Regions from separate parts of the Homo sapiens genome. Here region 1 is linked to region 2. The links come from fine-mapping of genetic effects on gene expression. A gene starts in region 2. The other region holds a variant in brackets. All regions are shown on one strand. Distances are between the middles of the regions. Region 1 overlaps SNAPC4 (small nuclear RNA activating complex polypeptide 4). Region 2 holds the start of CARD9 (caspase recruitment domain family member 9).

Region 1 (8,000 bases), 20 kb before region 2:
AGCATTGTTTGATCCCAGGAGTTCATGTCCAGCCTGGACAACGCAGCAAGACCCTGTCTCTAAAAATAATAATAATAATAATAAACGATGGCTGGTGCTGCTTGGACCAGACCCAATTTTTTGCCAACACTGGTGTCTTTCTGTACTCCAGCCAGAGAGCTTCTGACAATTCCTCCTTTGCTAGCCCCTGAACCAGCTGGCTGTGTGTGTACACTGGGCTCTAGGCATCCCAGGGTCTGGGCCTGGCCTCCTTGGGCCTGTGCAGGGCTTCTGGAGTGGACCATCCTGGGAGGAGGGGGCAGGCCTGAACCTCACCAGATGGCAGTCTGGACAGTCCATGCCTGGATGGTCAACACAGCTCACACCCCTAGGATCTCTTCTTCTCACATGTGCCCCTCCCCACGTGCTCCCCACCCCAAGTGCTCTCCTCCCCACGTGCTCCCCACCCCACGTGCTCCCCACCCCACGTGCTCCCCTCCCCACGTGCTCCCCTCCCCACGTGCTCCCCTCCCCACGTGCTCCCCACCCCACGTGCTCCCCTCCCCATGTGCTCCCCACCCCATAGGCTCCCCACCCCACAGCCTCTCCTCCCAACATGCTCCCCTCCCCACATGCTCTCCTCCATGCTCCCTTTAGCTTCTGAGCCTACCCCAACCCCACCAGCTGCTGCCCTGACAGGAGACCCCCCCAGCCTTGCTTCCCACCTCTCCCAGACCCAGGGCCTGCCTCTGAGGCAACCTGCTATCTTTCTCCTGTGGTGAGGGCCTCTACATCCGTGCCTCCCATCTGACCGGCTAAGCTCCTGAAGGAGAGGTCCGTTTTCTGCTAAACTTTCCCTGTCTCTCCAGTAAAGATAGCTTGTGCCATCCAGTGAACCCTGTGTAGCTTTGTCCTGTGTGCCTGGAGGTCCCCAGTGTGTGGTCAGAGTTTTCTCTATCTGGCTAACCCGGCCTTGGTCCAGTGCCCACCCCGCTGTCAGGGAGGGAAGGTCCGCTCACCGCCAGCCTCAGCCTGAGGCGCTGTCACTACCTCACAACCCCAGGTCTGCCCAAGAAGCAGTGGTGAGCTGCGCCCCCACCCTGCCCAAGACGCTGGTTACCAACACGGTGTTGCTTGTGTTTCTGACAGATTCACTGCCTTCTGAGGACTTGGATCCTGCCGATCCCCCGATCTCGGTAACTGTTGGCCTGATCTGGCTGTGCCACTGGGTCAGGCCTGCCACCACCTTCCAAAGTAGCCTGGGAGGGGGCGTGGTTTGAACCCATATTGGTTTTTCTGCATTATAAAAATGATTCACGTTTGTTATAAAAAAATTAAAAAGCATTTGTCATTGAAATTGTCCCCAGAAATAACCACTGTTAACAGCTTGGTGATCACACCCCTTGGGTTTTTTCTGAGCTCATTGCTGTATGCCTCTGTCTCCTGTGTGGCATCTGTCACTTGCGGAAAGCTGTGAGTTGTGCACCTGCGTCCTGCCCCTCACAGCTCGCCTCTCTGTGCCTCAGATTCCTGTGGGGCAGCGGGGACGTTTACAGCACAAGTCAGTTAACACGAGCAGCTATACAGAAATTAGCTGGTGCAGTGGCACGTGGCTGTGGACGCAGCTACTTGGGTGGCTGAGGCAGGAGGATCACTTGAGCCCAGGAGGCCGAGGCTCCAGTGAGCTGTGATTGCACCACTGCACTCCAGCCTGGGTGATGGAGTGAGACCCTGTCTCAAAAAAAAGAAAAATACACAAGCACCCAAACAGCACCTGGCAACTGCTCTGTGAGGCCAGTGATTATTTTATTAGCTGCCTTTTGTTTACTTTGGAAAACGTTGGCGATTTGCTGCTTCCTTTTTCTGCAAAGTTAGTGGGTACTGAGTTTCCTCATGTTTGCGTGGCTGTGTGGTTCACCTTCTGTGAGTGAGCACCCTGCTGTAGCCTGTGGGCACCTCACCTCCCAGTGGGCATTTTCACTGCGTCCACTTCCTGGCTCTGCAGAGACTTTCCTCCCACACAGGCTTGCTCCCCGTGCTTTGCTGGTGATGCACACGACAGGGGCTCAGGACAGAGTTCAGGGTTCACAGGACGCCTGTGGTCCTGGAAAGCTGCCTGCTGCCTTGCAGCAGCCGCAGCCCTGGCGTGTTCCAGGTTGGAGGCTCTGCCTGCCGTGGATTAGGAAAGGCGCACACAGGCCGCCTTGAGAGTGACAGGCTCCACTCCCAAACTCAGACGCCCTCCCGCTGCCCACCAGGGTCACTTCCTGCTTCCACATTGGGTGTTGCTATGCCAGAGCTGCCTCGGTGTCCCAGAGGCCCAGCGATGGGCGACTGGCTGCCGAGGACAGGGGAGCATCCACGTCTCATCTCGTCACATGCCATTTCTGGCTCGTTACCAGGAAGAAGAAAGGTGGGGCGAAGCCAGCAATGACGAGGACGATCCCAAGGATAAAACCCTCCCTGAAGACCCAGAAACCTGCCTGCAGCTGAACATGGTCTACCAGGAGGTCATCCAGGAGAAGCTGGCTGAGGCCAACCTGCTGCTGGCCCAGAACCGGGAGCAGCAGGTGGGATGGGCCTCGGCCCCCCGGTGCCCACACCTCCCCACCCCCAGAGCCCCCCACAGCTGGGCCTCCCAGGTCCAGGGCTCCCCAGCTCCCTGCCTCTCCTCTGCCCCGGGTCTCCTCCGCAGGGAGAGTCATTGCTGCTGGTCCATAGAGGGGTCCCTGCCTTGTGTCTGTCACAGGAGGAACTCATGAGGGATCTGGCTGGGTCCAAAGGCACCAAGGTGAAAGATGGCAAAAGCCTGCCCCCAAGCACATACATGGGGCACTTCATGAAGCCGTATTTCAAGGACAAGGTCACGGGCGTGGTGAGTGGCCGAGGCCCTGCTCTTGTCGGCAAGGCTCTGCACCGTGGGAAGGGTTCTTGTCCCCAAGTCCTGCTGCAGGGAGTCGTGAATTCCTGTGAGTTCAAGATAACATTGGCCAACCTCCTTCAAACTGCCTCCTCCGTGGTGGGCAAGCTGCCCTCTGCTCTGCGCTGGGCTGCCAGGACTGCCCTGTGAAGCGATGAGCAAGCCCTCGTGGAGGTGCCAGTGTTGTCTGTGCGAGGCCTGACCTCATCAGGCTTCATGGAGTGGCCGGCAGGGTTGCACCCCCACAGCCTCACAGTACGGGAGAACAGGAGGCAGGGGGAGCCCGAGTCCTTTTGTGGGCTCTGGAGGGATGTGCTGGGCCTGCAGGGAGCACATGTGGCCTGTGCTTGTGGTGATGCCGTGCACCCTGACAGGGGCCACCTGCCAACGAGGACACACGAGAGAAGGCTGCCCAGGGGATCAAGGCTTTCGAGGAGCTCCTTGTGACCAAATGTAAGAGCCCTGGCCGGCCCTGCGGCACCCCTGAGCTTGGGACACCTCCCCATGGCCCTCCTTTCCCCAGTTTCTCCCCAAGTTCTCAGACCTCTCTCTGTTGTGACCTCATGGCTCCTTCAGGCCTTGACCACTGGGACTGGCCCCTTGACTCCTGCCTTTCCACACTGAGCAGGTCCTTTCCAGAACACCAGTCACGAGGGGCTAGCCAGGCCGCACCCCACCCTCTGGCTCAGTCTCCCCGCCCTTGTCTTGGGCCGCAAAGCCCTGTGGCTTTACGTGTGAGCTGGCGCCAGGCCTCGGGTGGAGCTCTGTCAGCTGGGTGGAGGGGCCACGTCAGTAGGTCTGGCGTGCTGCTTACTCGCTGTGGGGCCCCCCACCACTGCCTCGGGAAGTGCACACCAACCGTGGGGGCTGGGCCGTGGAGAGGATCCAGACCCCCAGTGATGATGCTGTGGCTTCTCCTCAGGGAAAAACTGGGAAAAGGCCTTGCTCCGAAAGTCAGTGGTGAGTGACCGCCTGCAGCGATTGCTTCAGCCCAAGTTACTGAAGTAAGTCTAAAACCATAAGTCAAAAACGGTCTTCAGGCTGGGCATAGGGCTCATGCCTGGAATCCCAGCACTTTGGGAGGCCAAGGCAGGAGGATCTCTTGAACCCAGTTCAAGCCCAGCCTGGGCAACATGGTGAGACCCCATCTCTTCAAAAAGTAAAAAAATTAGCTGGGTGTGGTGGTGCACACCTGTGGTCCCAGCTACTCGGGAGGCTGAGGTGGGAGGATCGATTGATCCCAGGAGGTCAAAGCTGCAGTGAGCCATGATTGTACCACTGCGTTCCAG[C/T]CTGGGTGACAGAGCGAGACCCTGTCTCAAAAACAAACACAACAGCCTTTCCTGGCCAACAGGAAAAGCCAAGGCTGGTTGGTTTGGGCTTGGCAGAGGTTCAGCTTAGCTGTATGCCCGTTCTCTGCAGCGGGTCTTGCCAGGCCATGGAGAGATGCTCATGCCTGGACTTTATGCCCCTTCCCCATGAAGGGGGCTTCCCCATGGCCGGGCGGGCGGCTAAGCGCAGGATCAGTCCACACAGCCACGATGAGGGGTGTGGCTCGGGGCGCGGGGTCGGTCCACACGGCCACGATGAGAGGTGTGGCTCGGGGCATGGGGTCGGTCCACACGGCCATGATGAGGGGTGTGGTTCAGGCAGCTTCTCTGGGCTTCCCTTTCCCATTCCTGAAACCTGCTGTTTGCTGATGGGGTGATAATCACGTGACCAAAGAAGGCACAGCACAGCCTTACTGTCCGCACTTGATAGAAGGCGCTGCTGTCCTGATGACTTTGGTCAAAGACAGAGCTGCTCCCAGAGCCCAGAGACCCAGCAGCACCTGGTTGGCCACTCAACAGCACAGCAGGTCCCCATCTGTCTTCTGTGGGGCCACCATGAGCTCTCAAGGCAGAGGGGGTGCCTTTAGAATACAAGCTGCCAGGGCATCTCTGGGCACTGAGAGGGCTTTGGCCATGCCAGGGGTCCCGGGTCCCGCCTGCCCCCCGTGGCCTGATGTGCATGGTCAGGGTTTGCAGTGATGACGGTGGGTCTCTCCTCAGGCTCGGGGAGAGCTGGGTTTTCCTCCCTGGCCTGCTCTGGGGAGTGGTTCTTTACTGTGGCCTCACAGCCTCTGGCCTCCTCACTGGGCACCAGTCAGGATATCTGCCTACGGCTGTGTCTCTGTGCCAGGCACAGGCTGGGAGCTGGGGCACTGAGGCTCCGGAGGGCTGTGGCGAGGCTCTGAGACACGGGGGCCAGCAGGCGGTAGCCTCTGTGTCAGCAGACACTGCAGCCCTTCCCACCCCGGTGGCAGCCTGGAGGTGGGTGCTACAGCTTCCCTCATGGGTGAGGAGGCCGAGGCAGGGAGGGTGAGGGAGGCTCGGAATCTCTGCTGAGCTCACACTCCTTGCCCTGTAATGTGCAGAGAACCTGCCCCGCCCCGCAGCCCTCGTGCCCCAGCCCTTCTGCCTCTGCTCTGCTTTGCAGGCTCGAGTACTTGCACCAGAAGCAGAGCAAAGTCTCCAGTGAGCTGGAGAGGCAAGCCCTGGAGAAGCAGGGCAGGGAAGCCGAGAAGGAGATCCAGGACATCAAGTGAGGGGGGCCTCCCGGGAGGGCCCAGGGGAGCCCACAAGCCAGGCGTGGTGCCAATACCCTCATCCCTTCCACCAGCCAGCTTCCAGAAGAGGCCTTGCTGGGAAACAGGCTGGACAGCCACGACTGGGAGAAGATTTCCAATATTAACGTAAGTCAGGGGCAGGTCTGAGCCCCAAGCAGCTTGGAGCACAGCTCCCTGTAGCCCGGGTGCAGTTGGAATTGGGTGGTAAGGCCACACCCTCCCTGGCAACAGGTTCTGCTGTGACCCCCCACCCACCCGGGTCAAGCACATGTCCCACAGTCGGGAATGGCGAGTGGACTCACGAGGGCCTTCAGGCTGGTGCACGGCCCTTTCTGAGATGGTCTGGAGGGCTCCCGGCCTTGCATCTGGAGCCAAGTCTACATGTTTGGCTATGCAAGGCCTAGTGAGTTGGACGAAGATTGCGCTTACTTGCAGCCGTGGAAGCCTCCAGCTGGCGGAGAGCAACAGCTCAGCCTGGAGCTGCGTCTAGGGTGCCCCTGGGGTCAGTGGCCTGCAAGGCTGAGTGTCTCTGTCGGTGCAGTTTGAAGGCAGCCGCAGTGCAGAGGAGATCCGGAAGTTCTGGCAGAACTCGGAGCACCCCAGCATCAACAAGCAGGAGTGGAGCAGGGAGGAGGAGGAGCGGCTGCAGGCGATCGCGGCTGCACACGGCCACCTGGAGTGGCAGAAGATTGCAGAGGAGCTGGGGGTAAGGGCCTGGCCTGGACCCCAGGGGCCAGGAGACCTGAGGGCGTGTGGGCCCTATAGCGGGAGGCTGCTGGACGGGTGCGGGGTCCCCAGTGCTCACTCACCGCCAGGTTTCTATGTGTTGCCACCTCCAGGCTGTGGCCCTAGGGAAGGAGCCTGCCCAGCCCTCTCTGCCACTAGGCCATTGCCGCAGCTCCTCTGGGCCTTCCCAGTCCTCCAGGTCTCCCCATGCAGCGGTGCATGCCCAGTTTACCGGAGTTTGTCTCCTTTCTTATTTCTAGTCTTCTTCTGTCTCCATCAGCCTCGGGAGTTTATTCTGTTGATGTTTCTAAAGCGCTTTTTCCTCGTGTGAGTTCTTGCCGCTTTTCTGGTTTCCTGAGTAAGGACTCAGTTCTTTACTGACTTGGGTCTCTTGTCTTGATAACGAGGCTTGTTAGGCCACCCTGAGAGTAGCTTGGCGTGAACTCTTCTTCTCATAGATTTCCAAAGTAGCTCTAGTTTCCATTTTTATTGCCTCTTTGGACCTAGGTGTATCTAGGAGTGTATGTTTCCGTTTTTAAATAGTTGGATTTCTGGGAGTTCTTGTGGTGGTTCTTTATCTGAATTTGATTGGAACATGAACTAGGGGCGAGATGTATAAAATCTCCATTTTTCAAATATATTTTACTTTTTTATGGCAGAGCACCTGATTATAGCAGACCCAGCTAAACTTGCCAAAACTGTTTTTAAGAAAAAGGTATGTTCTCTGTAAGTAGGGCCTACTCTATATCAGCTATTAAATTGAGTTTGCCTTTAAAGATGCTTAATTCTGCCGGGCACAGTGGCTCACCCCTGTAATCCCAGCACTTTGGGAGGCCGAGGCTGGCGGATCACCTGAGGTCGGGAGTTCAAGACCAGCCTGGCCAACATGGAGAAACCCCGTCTCTACTAAAAATACAAAATTAGCCGGGCGTGGTGGCGGGCATCTGTAGTCCCAGCTACTCGGGAGGCTGAGGCAGGAGAATGGCGTGAACCCGGGAGGCGGAGCTTGCGGTGAGCGGACGTCGCGCCACTGCACTCCAGCCTGGGCGACAGCAAGACTCCGTCTCAAAAAAAAAAAAAATAAATAAATAAATACAAATCGGTTTTTCTTCTATGTATATTTTACTGCTACATAGTTTGGTACACATAACTTTTTTTAATCGGGGTCTGCTTTCTTTTTTTCTTTTTTGTTTTTCATATTTTTTGAGTTCAGGGCTGTGTGTGCAGGATGTGCAGTTTGGTTCCGTAGGTGAGCGTGTGCCATGGTGGTTTGTTGCATAGATCAGCCCATCACCCAGGGATTCAGCCCAGCTTGCGTTAGCTCATTAGCTCTTTTTCTTTCCTTTTTTTTTTTTTTTTTTTTTTTTCAAACAGAGTCTCACTCTGTCGCCCAGGCTGGAGTGCAGTGGCACGATCTCAGCTCACCGCAAGCTCCGCCTCCCGGGTTCACGCCATTCTCCTGCCTCAGCCTCCCGAGTAGCTGGGACTACAGGCGCCCACCACCACGCCCGGCTAATTTTTTGTATTTTTAGTAGAGACGGGGTTTCACTGTGTTAGCCAGGATGGTCTCAGTCTCCTGACGTTGTGATCTGCCGGCCTCAGCCTCCCAAAGTGCTGGGATTACAGACGTGAGCCACCGCGCCCGGCCCATCCCTGTATTTTCAGCCTTTTAACAAATCGTCATTTCCAAGTGTTTTCATGAAAGCAGCGTGCAGCTGGGTTTTGCTTTCCCACCCGCCTGACCAGCCTCTGGCTTTGTGGGAGGGTGGG
Region 2 (8,000 bases):
CCAAGGCGTCCGCACCACCCTCTCAGTACCTTCGAGGGTGGGCTCTGAGAGTGAGGATGAAGACCTCCTGAGTGAGCTGGAACTTGCAGACAGGGACGGGCAGCCGGGCTGCACGACAGCCACATGCCCCATTCAGGTAGGGTGGGCGCCCAGCCCCACTTCCCCATGGCAGGCGGCGGTCCCTGGGGTGCCCTCGCCTGCCTGGAGCAGTGGGGTGGGGGCTGGTGGAAGTTGCGGGCAGGAAGGCTGGCTGCTGGGTGTCTTAGGAGGAGGAAGCTGGTTCCTGGCCTGCCCAGTTGCGTGTAGATTCTGCAGAAGTGGCCTCCCTTTGGGGCAGTGTGGAAAAGGGGAGAAGAGAGGCCTCATTCTCGTGCAGGAGCCTCCGGCCATCCTGATGCTGCCCAGCCAGGTGGCCTTGTCTGAGCGAGAAGCTCTGGGATGGACGCTGACCCGGCTCTGAGCCGCACACGCCACACACACGTGTGCTCCCAGGGTGGGCCATGGGCACAGTGGAGGGTGGTGGCTGTGTTTGTCTCTGGATTTCTGGGGTCCCAAAGGTCCCTCTCTGCTGTCACCTCTCTGAGTGTCCTTGGGGAGAGTTTTCCAATCTCTGTAGGTGAAACCATGTTTGGAACCCTGGAAAGCATGTGGAGCTGGGGCCCCCAGAGAGGCCTCCTCCCCTGGTGCCAGGGTGCCCACTTGCAGCAGCTGGGAGGCTGGCCTCCCTGAGAAACCACCAGAAGCAGGCAGCCTCAGCTGGACCTGTGGGCCTGTCATAGGGAGTGTGGCAGAGGGCCTTCCATCTCTCCCCAGGGTTGTGTCTCGCAAGTCCCTGGGCTGAAGTGTGGGAGGAAGCAATGTCCAAGAGTTGGGGAGGACCCCGGCCAGCCAGGGGAAGAGGCCCTCTGTGCCCCATCCATGTACAGCCTCCTGCCCTGCCTGGGTGTGATGGCTGTCCCATGGGGGAGTGGGAGGCCCACCAGAGGGATGGCTTGGATGGGGTCAGAGCCCCCGAGGGAGGGAGTGCACAGTCACGTGTGGCCCCAGGAGTGCCTGGAGCAGCTCCCGCCTGAGCTGAGGGTGCCCTGTCCCAAGTGGGACACTCACCCACAGGGCCCCTCCTCACTCCCGTCCCTTCCCCGTCCATCATGGCTCGGGGGTGTCACTCTTGTCCCCACTGCCTGGATTTTCTTTCAGGGAGCCCCAGACTCTGGTAAATGCTCTGCTTCCTCCTGCCTGGATACTTCTAATGACCCTGACGACCTGGACGTGCTCAGAACCCGGCATGCCAGGCACACCCGGAAGCGGAGGCGGCTGGTGTGAGCAGCAGGTGAGTCCTGAGTGGGGAGGCCACTGCCCTACAACCCAGGGGACAGAGTGGTGTCCAGATGGCAGGGGGCCTTGGCCTCTGCTCGGCTCTTTGGCGCTCACAGCAGGTGTGCTGGGTTAGGTGGGCAGGTCCAGGGTCATGGAGGCCCTCCAGGGGGAGAAGCATTTAACCCACATCCTTCCTGCTGGCCACCCATGCCTCGGGCCTTGGCACCACTGTGCCCCTGACCATAGGCTCATTCCCTGCCTTTGGGGTCTGGGCTCCTCCCTGGCCGCTGTGCTCTGGTGGTGCCCTGTTCCCGTGCATTGCTGCGTCGTCTCCCAGCTTGTAAAACGATCACCATCCCCAACCGCAGCCACCAGGCTGGCTCTTCACTGCTGGAGCCCTGGTGCCCTGGCCTGGCCCTTGGCGCATGTGGGTCAGGTTTACCAAGCAGACTGGGCGTGGCCGGCGCTGGGGTGGTCTTGGTTCCTGTTTGTCTGTCCCAGCCCTGCTTGGGGTCTGGCTGGGGTCAAGGGCACCCCCCACCTGGTGTTCCTGTGTTCCAGGACAAGCACTTTCTCAGAAGCCCGTGGCCCTGCTGACGAGAGACAGCCCACCCCCAGCCTGCAAGAGAGGCAGCCAGAGGCCAGGTATCTGCTGGCCGCTGACTGACCAGGTCCGCAGTGAACAGAGGCGGGCCTGCCGACTGACTGTGTGGCATGGAGCATGGCTGTTCCCCAAGTGCACACCTGAACACTTGGAGGAATAAAGTTCTGTTTTTAATTGTGGAGCTGGACACAGGCTGTTGTGGTTTTGTTGTCCTGAGGTACCGGGCAGTGTACAGGGACCCCCCACCTGGCTGGGGTCAGGCTGCTGCCTAGTGGCTGAGCCACCCTAGTGCAGGCAGTTCGGGAACAAGCAGGGTGCTGGGGGCCCAGAGCTGGGGTCCTGGAAGGCCTCCCGTACCCCGGCTGCCCTCCTGTCAGAGAAGCAGGCTTTCTTTCGCCCATTTCCTGGAAAGCATCTGTGGCTTTGTCCTTCAGGCTAGCCGGCACCCTCCCCAGATGGCTGCCAGCCCTCGCGCTGCCCTGGCTGACCCAGGGGGTTCCCTGGAACAGATGACCTGGCTACCCCGACACGGCGGCAGCCCCCACCCTCCACTGTTCCTTTTGCATGGGCCTTTATTGGCATAAGACTAGCCCCCATCTTCTCCGTCTGTCCCCTAGCTCCCTTTCCTTTGTCTCTGTGGCAGCAGCGCCCCCAGGCCCTTGGCTATCTGGGCTTCGATCCTTCACTGGAGCCACTGTGGGGCCTCAGCCCTGGGCACCTGGCAGACGGGACGGTCCCATGGCCGACCTCACTCCTGAGTATGTGTTGCTGTGCCTGGTTCTCTAGTCTGGTGCCTAGTCTGGGGGCCACTCTGATCTGTGGGTTATTTAGCGGTATATTATTTAATTTCCAAATATTTAGAGATTTTGCCGATATCTGTTACCGATTTTTAGCTTCCGATATGGTTAGAGAACATGGTATGTGTGTTCACTCCTAAGGACACACACCACAGGGAAGTCACTAAGGTCCGCGTTTTAAACGCTGGGGAAACACTGGGTCATGAGGGCCTGGTGCCAGCTCCGGTTCGCTCCCTGGCAGGGCCCAGGATGGCCCCGGCCTGCACACTCGCTCATGTTGATGGTGAGGGGTCCAGCAGGGGCACGGCCCCCTGGAATGTGGCATTCCCGAGAGCCCAGGAGGACCCCTAACTGTCCGCTCCTTAATGTGTGATGTCAGACGTTGTCCGCACAGAGGCCTGAGGGCTGGAGGCTGAGAACGGTTAGGCAAGCTCCACACCAGCTTCCTTGCCTTCCAGCCTGGCGGCCCCTTCTCGAACCTGTTGGGTGGCAACTCAGTTCAACCAGCTTTACCGGGTGAGGCGGGGCCTGGGGGTTCCCAAGCCTGCAGGGATGAGGCTCTGGCAGCCCACACGCTGAAGTGCACAGTTCAGGGCAGACTCTGCTGTCCGTTGTCCCTGGATGGGGGCCGAGCTGTGCCCTGCTGTCACCGGCTCTTCTGAAGCTGGTTTGGGGGACCCCGAGAGTGGCCTCAGTCCTCACATGCATCCTGGTGGAGAGCAGGGATGCCTCATGATGGGGATAACGAGGATAACGACACTTCTGGAAGGGACGTTTCTCCCCCGTGTGCAGCTGGGTGGTGGCCGATGCCATGGCCCCTGGCAGGCTGCTGTGGCCTCCTGGGCTCCATAAGGTGGGCTGCAGCCCTTCTGTGACCAAGGCGTGTGCTGGCCATGCCGTGTGGCTGTGTGCCCCCCTGCACATGCCCTGCCCCGCTGTCCTGAGATGCTGGCGAGGGCGAGGGTGTTCGCACAGAGCAAAGCATGCCTTACTGAAGAAGTCTCCAGAAGCCTGTGACCAGGTCAAAGTGGCTGGGTGCGGGCTGGCCTTGTCCAGCCCCCTGGGGGTCTCTGCTGTCTCTTCTACTTGCCAGGTGCCAGGGCTGGGCCTCTGGGGCATCCCCAGGACCCCCAGCCCCCGGCCAGGCTGGGAGGGCTGGGAGCAGCTTTCCTCTGGAGGGCAGCGGACTTCCACTTCCGTCTGCCTCTTGGGGCCTCCTGGGCTGGGCGAATCAGAAAGCAGGTCACCAGGGACTGTCCCCCTGTGGGAGGACTGGCGGGACTGTGGAGTTAAGCAGAACCCATCAGGAAGTGCACAGGCGTCCGGCGTGCTCCTCCCTCCCTGCAGCCCCGGGCAGCATCTCCCAGAGGCTCCGCGGCCCAGGCTCCTGGTGTGTCTGCAGTGCAGGTGGCTCCTGGAAGACCCTCAGGTGGGTGGGTCTGGTGCTTTCTGAAAGGTGGCCAGGAAGGTTGGCGTTGGCCTAGTTCAGGATCCTGGCACTGATCCCCCAGAGCAGCCTGAGGCTTCCCACAGGCAGCCAGGCAGCCTCCGCCATGCGGCCCCGTCCCTTTCACGGCCCCTGGGCGGAGATGTGTTCATTTCAGTGGAATTACGGTGGCAGATGGGACCCTGCATTTCAAGCTGGGGAAGCAGGAAAGGGGCCCAGTGTTCCCAGGACTGTCTACCGTGTGGCCAGTGTTTTTATTCAGTCCCTTGTCTGTCAAAACTGTCCTGAATGGGGTGACAAAGTGCAGCGGGAAGTTGAGAAATGCCTCAAAAGACCAAGCCTGGGGCAACTATGTCTCCAGGAGCAGTGACCCAGCTCCTCTGGGCTGGAAACCAGCGTTTCCCAGCGGGGCTGGAGGCTGTCTGAGGACCACGTGGCTGCTCCCAGCCTTGCCGCAGTCCCAGTCTCAGAGGGAGTGGCTTTCAGCGGCTGAGGCCCCCACCATGCTGGCAGAAAGGGACAGCAGTGGCTGGTCCCAACATGGGTAGTTCTGTTGCAGCCACTGGGATGGGGGCCGGGCCTCATCTGGGGCAGGAGAAGAGTCCAGGGATTCACTGGTGCCCGGCACCTCAACCTGGAGAAAACACCGCAGCAGCACTCCTGGCCAGCCAAGGGCAACACTGACAGCCCCTCCCAGGGTTGCGGGGCCGGCAGGGGGTGACAGAGACACGCTCCTGTGGGCAGCTCTTCCCGGCCAGTGCAGCGACCCCGCAGCTGCAGCAGGGCTGGGTGGCCACTCTTGCATCATCAGCAGCCGGCCGTGGAGGAGGGAGGGCACAGCCAGGGATGTGAGCAGGCGTCGGTCAGGGGAATGAGGAAGTCCCACAAGAACCGGCTCCCCCAGCTGCTGTGCTGGTGGGAGGGCCACTGGCCAACCTGCTCTCACCCAGCTTGGGCTGGCCATAGTGCCAGGCAGTTGCCCTCAGCTCCTCTGCCCATTCCAGCCATGGAGGTGGCTAACCTTGCAGGCTCCAGGGCGTGATGGGAGTGTCCAGGAGGCAGAGGCCAGAGGGGGTCATGCTGTAGGGGGAGTTCCTCTCTCAGACCCCATCTGTGCCTCCCCCGCTGCGTATCTGGGTGACATGGATGCCAACGGGCAGGAGCAAGGGCTGGGAAAGGCTGCGGAGGGGCCCTCGGCTGGTCTGGTGGGGAGCGGGGTCACTGTGTCTCTGCTGCCTCCCTGGGGGATCCAGCGTGGGGATGGGACATGGAGCTGGGCACCTCTCCTGGATGCCCCTGGGCTGATCCCCCTCGATGCCCTGACGAGAGCCCTGGCCCAGCGTCTGAGAAGGAGTGGGAGCTGGGCCCGGGTGGGGGCAGGAGCCGGCATCGCTCTCAGCACTGCCCCACACTCCCCAGCCTGCCTGCTGAGGCCATGTCGGACTACGAGAACGATGACGAGTGCTGGAGCGTCCTGGAGGGCTTCCGGGTGACGCTCACCTCGGTCATCGACCCCTCACGCATCACACCTTACCTGCGGCAGTGCAAGGTCCTGAACCCCGATGATGAGGAGCAGGTGCTCAGCGACCCCAACCTGGTCATCCGCAAACGGAAAGTGGGTCAGTGTTGCCCCGCGGGCCCCAGGCCCCAAACCCAACCACAGAGTCAGCTCGGAGGTGGCTGCACGCTCTGCCACCCTGACCCTCAACCCCAGGAGAGCCCCGCCTGGCTTTGCCCCTGGCCTCTGACTGAGGCCCAACCTCAACCCTGGCACGTGGCCCGTCCCCCAGCCTCTCCTGCCGGCTTGGTGCTGCCAAGAGGGGCAGCGGGGCTCCCACCGCAGCGGGGGCTCCTGAGACAGCCAAGGGGCGGGTGGGCAGCACTTGGTCCCCAGCCTAGTACCAAGACCCGCAGGGTACCTCATCCAAGACCCAGACCACGGCACACCTCATCTGCATGCCAGCCTCCACCTGTCCCTGCCCCCAGGCCCACCCACCCCAGCCCTCTGCCTCGCCTGTGCCCCGCCCCCAGTTAGGCCTCTCTGGCCCGCAGGTGTGCTCCTGGACATCCTGCAGCGGACCGGCCACAAGGGCTACGTGGCCTTCCTCGAGAGCCTGGAGCTCTACTACCCGCAGCTGTACAAGAAGGTCACAGGCAAGGAGCCGGCCCGCGTCTTCTCCATGATCATCGGTGAGTGACGGGGGAGGCGGGGCCGACAGGGGAGGCGCTGGCGGGGAGCGGGCAGTGGTGTTGGGTCCTCTGCCTGGCCCCCATCCCTAGGAGCCCTGAGCTCCTGCCACAGCGCAGGGCGTGATGGAGCTGGGCCACCGGGGAACACGGCACCATCTGACACTGGCCTGGCCCACAGACGCGTCCGGGGAGTCAGGCCTGACTCAGCTGCTGATGACTGAGGTCATGAAGCTGCAGAAGAAGGTGCAGGACCTGACCGCGCTGCTGAGCTCCAAAGATGACTTCATCAAGGAGCTGCGGGTGAAGGACAGCCTGCTGCGCAAGCACCAGGAGCGTGTGCAGAGGCTCAAGGAGGAGTGCGAGGCCGGCAGCCGCGAGCTCAAGCGCTGCAAGGAGGAGAACTACGACCTGGCCATGCGCCTGGCGCACCAGAGTGAGGAGAAGGGCGCCGCGCTCATGCGGAACCGTGACCTGCAGCTGGAGGTGCGCCCGCTGCCCCCGGGAAACCAGGCCACCCTCGCCTGGCCTGGCGGGGTCTGCAGGCCGGGGCGGTCGGGGGTGGCCCCACGGGTCTGCGGTCACCGCCTGGAGGGGACAGCCAGGCTCACTGGACCTTCTGCAGATTGACCAGCTCAAGCACAGCCTCATGAAGGCCGAGGACGACTGCAAGGTGGAGCGCAAGCACACGCTGAAGCTCAGGCACGCCATGGAGCAGCGGCCCAGCCAGGAGCTGCTGTGGGAGCTGCAGCAGGAGAAGGCCCTGCTCCAGGCCCGGGTGCAGGAGCTGGAGGCCTCCGTCCAGGTGGGGCCGTAGGCAGGGCAGGTGCAGCCCAGGCAGGGCAGTGGGGGCCTTCCCAGCCAGGCCATTGCCTTTTGCCCCCTTCAGGAGGGGAAGCTGGACAGGAGCAGCCCCTACATCCAGGTACTGGAGGAGGACTGGCGGCAGGCGCTGCGGGACCACCAGGAGCAGGCCAACACCATCTTCTCCCTGCGCAAGGACCTCCGCCAGGGCGAGGCCCGACGCCTCCGGGTAGGAGGGCAGGCGGGGAGACATGGCCCCTGGGGTCCAAGCCAGGCTGGACGGGCTGAGCTCCGCCCACTCCGTGCCTGGAAGGTGGGGTGTGGAGACCCCAGTGCAGCGCCTCCACTCACCCACTCCTGGAGGCACAGTGGACGGTGCCCTCTCCTTGCCCGCCTGCCCCCCATGGCAAAGGCCAACCTCTGGGCTCATGGTGCCTGAGGCACAGCAGTGTCTGAGGCCTGCCGGAGGGCCCTGTCCTGCCGCGGTCTGGAAGTGCAGGGCTGGTAGGGGCCTGGGGACTCCTATGGCCTCCCCCGACATCCCAACTGGCCTGACCACATGCTTCTGAGCCCCTGCCCGGAGTATACCCCAAGGGCCAGAATGGGGGGCCTCAGGCCTGTGGGGGCTGAGCTGCCGCCCCCTGCAGTGCATGGAGGAGAAGGAGATGTTCGAGCTGCAGTGCCTGGCACTACGTAAGGACTCCAAGATGTACAAGGACCGCATCGAGGCCATCCTGCTGCAGATGGAGGAGGTCGCCATTGAGCGGGACCAGGTGGGCACTCGCAGGGGCAGGACAAAGCACCCCACTCGCGGGTGGGTGCACCAGGGCCACGGCCCTTGAGG

What was found.
Region 1: its variant is fine-mapped to the expression of CARD9 in whole blood (TOPMed, PIP 0.93).

What each region holds. Positions count from the first base shown.
Region 1 is chr9:136,390,152-136,398,151 of GRCh38, reverse strand. It overlaps SNAPC4 (small nuclear RNA activating complex polypeptide 4), which reads left to right. Exons shown (of 24, transcript NM_003086.4): 3 at 1,129-1,175; 4 at 2,382-2,549; 5 at 2,729-2,854; 6 at 3,274-3,352; 7 at 3,822-3,903; 8 at 5,375-5,479; 9 at 5,558-5,630; 10 at 6,046-6,210. Among named protein-coding and RNA genes, the nearest start is that of SNAPC4, 6.0 kb to the left of the region's middle. RefSeq lists an enhancer at 1-698. The variant C/T (reference allele first, on the strand shown) is at 4,189.
Region 2 is chr9:136,369,679-136,377,678 of GRCh38, reverse strand. CARD9 (caspase recruitment domain family member 9) reads left to right here and starts at 4,010. Exons shown (of 13, transcript NM_052813.5): 1 at 4,010-4,147; 2 at 5,585-5,784; 3 at 6,218-6,355; 4 at 6,534-6,838; 5 at 6,978-7,157; 6 at 7,242-7,385; 7 at 7,804-7,929. The coding sequence starts at 5,601. SNAPC4 (small nuclear RNA activating complex polypeptide 4) reads left to right here. Exons shown (of 24, transcript NM_003086.4): 22 at 1-136; 23 at 1,198-1,330; 24 at 1,879-2,108. The coding sequence ends at 1,323. RefSeq lists enhancers at 3,115-3,828, 3,848-4,142.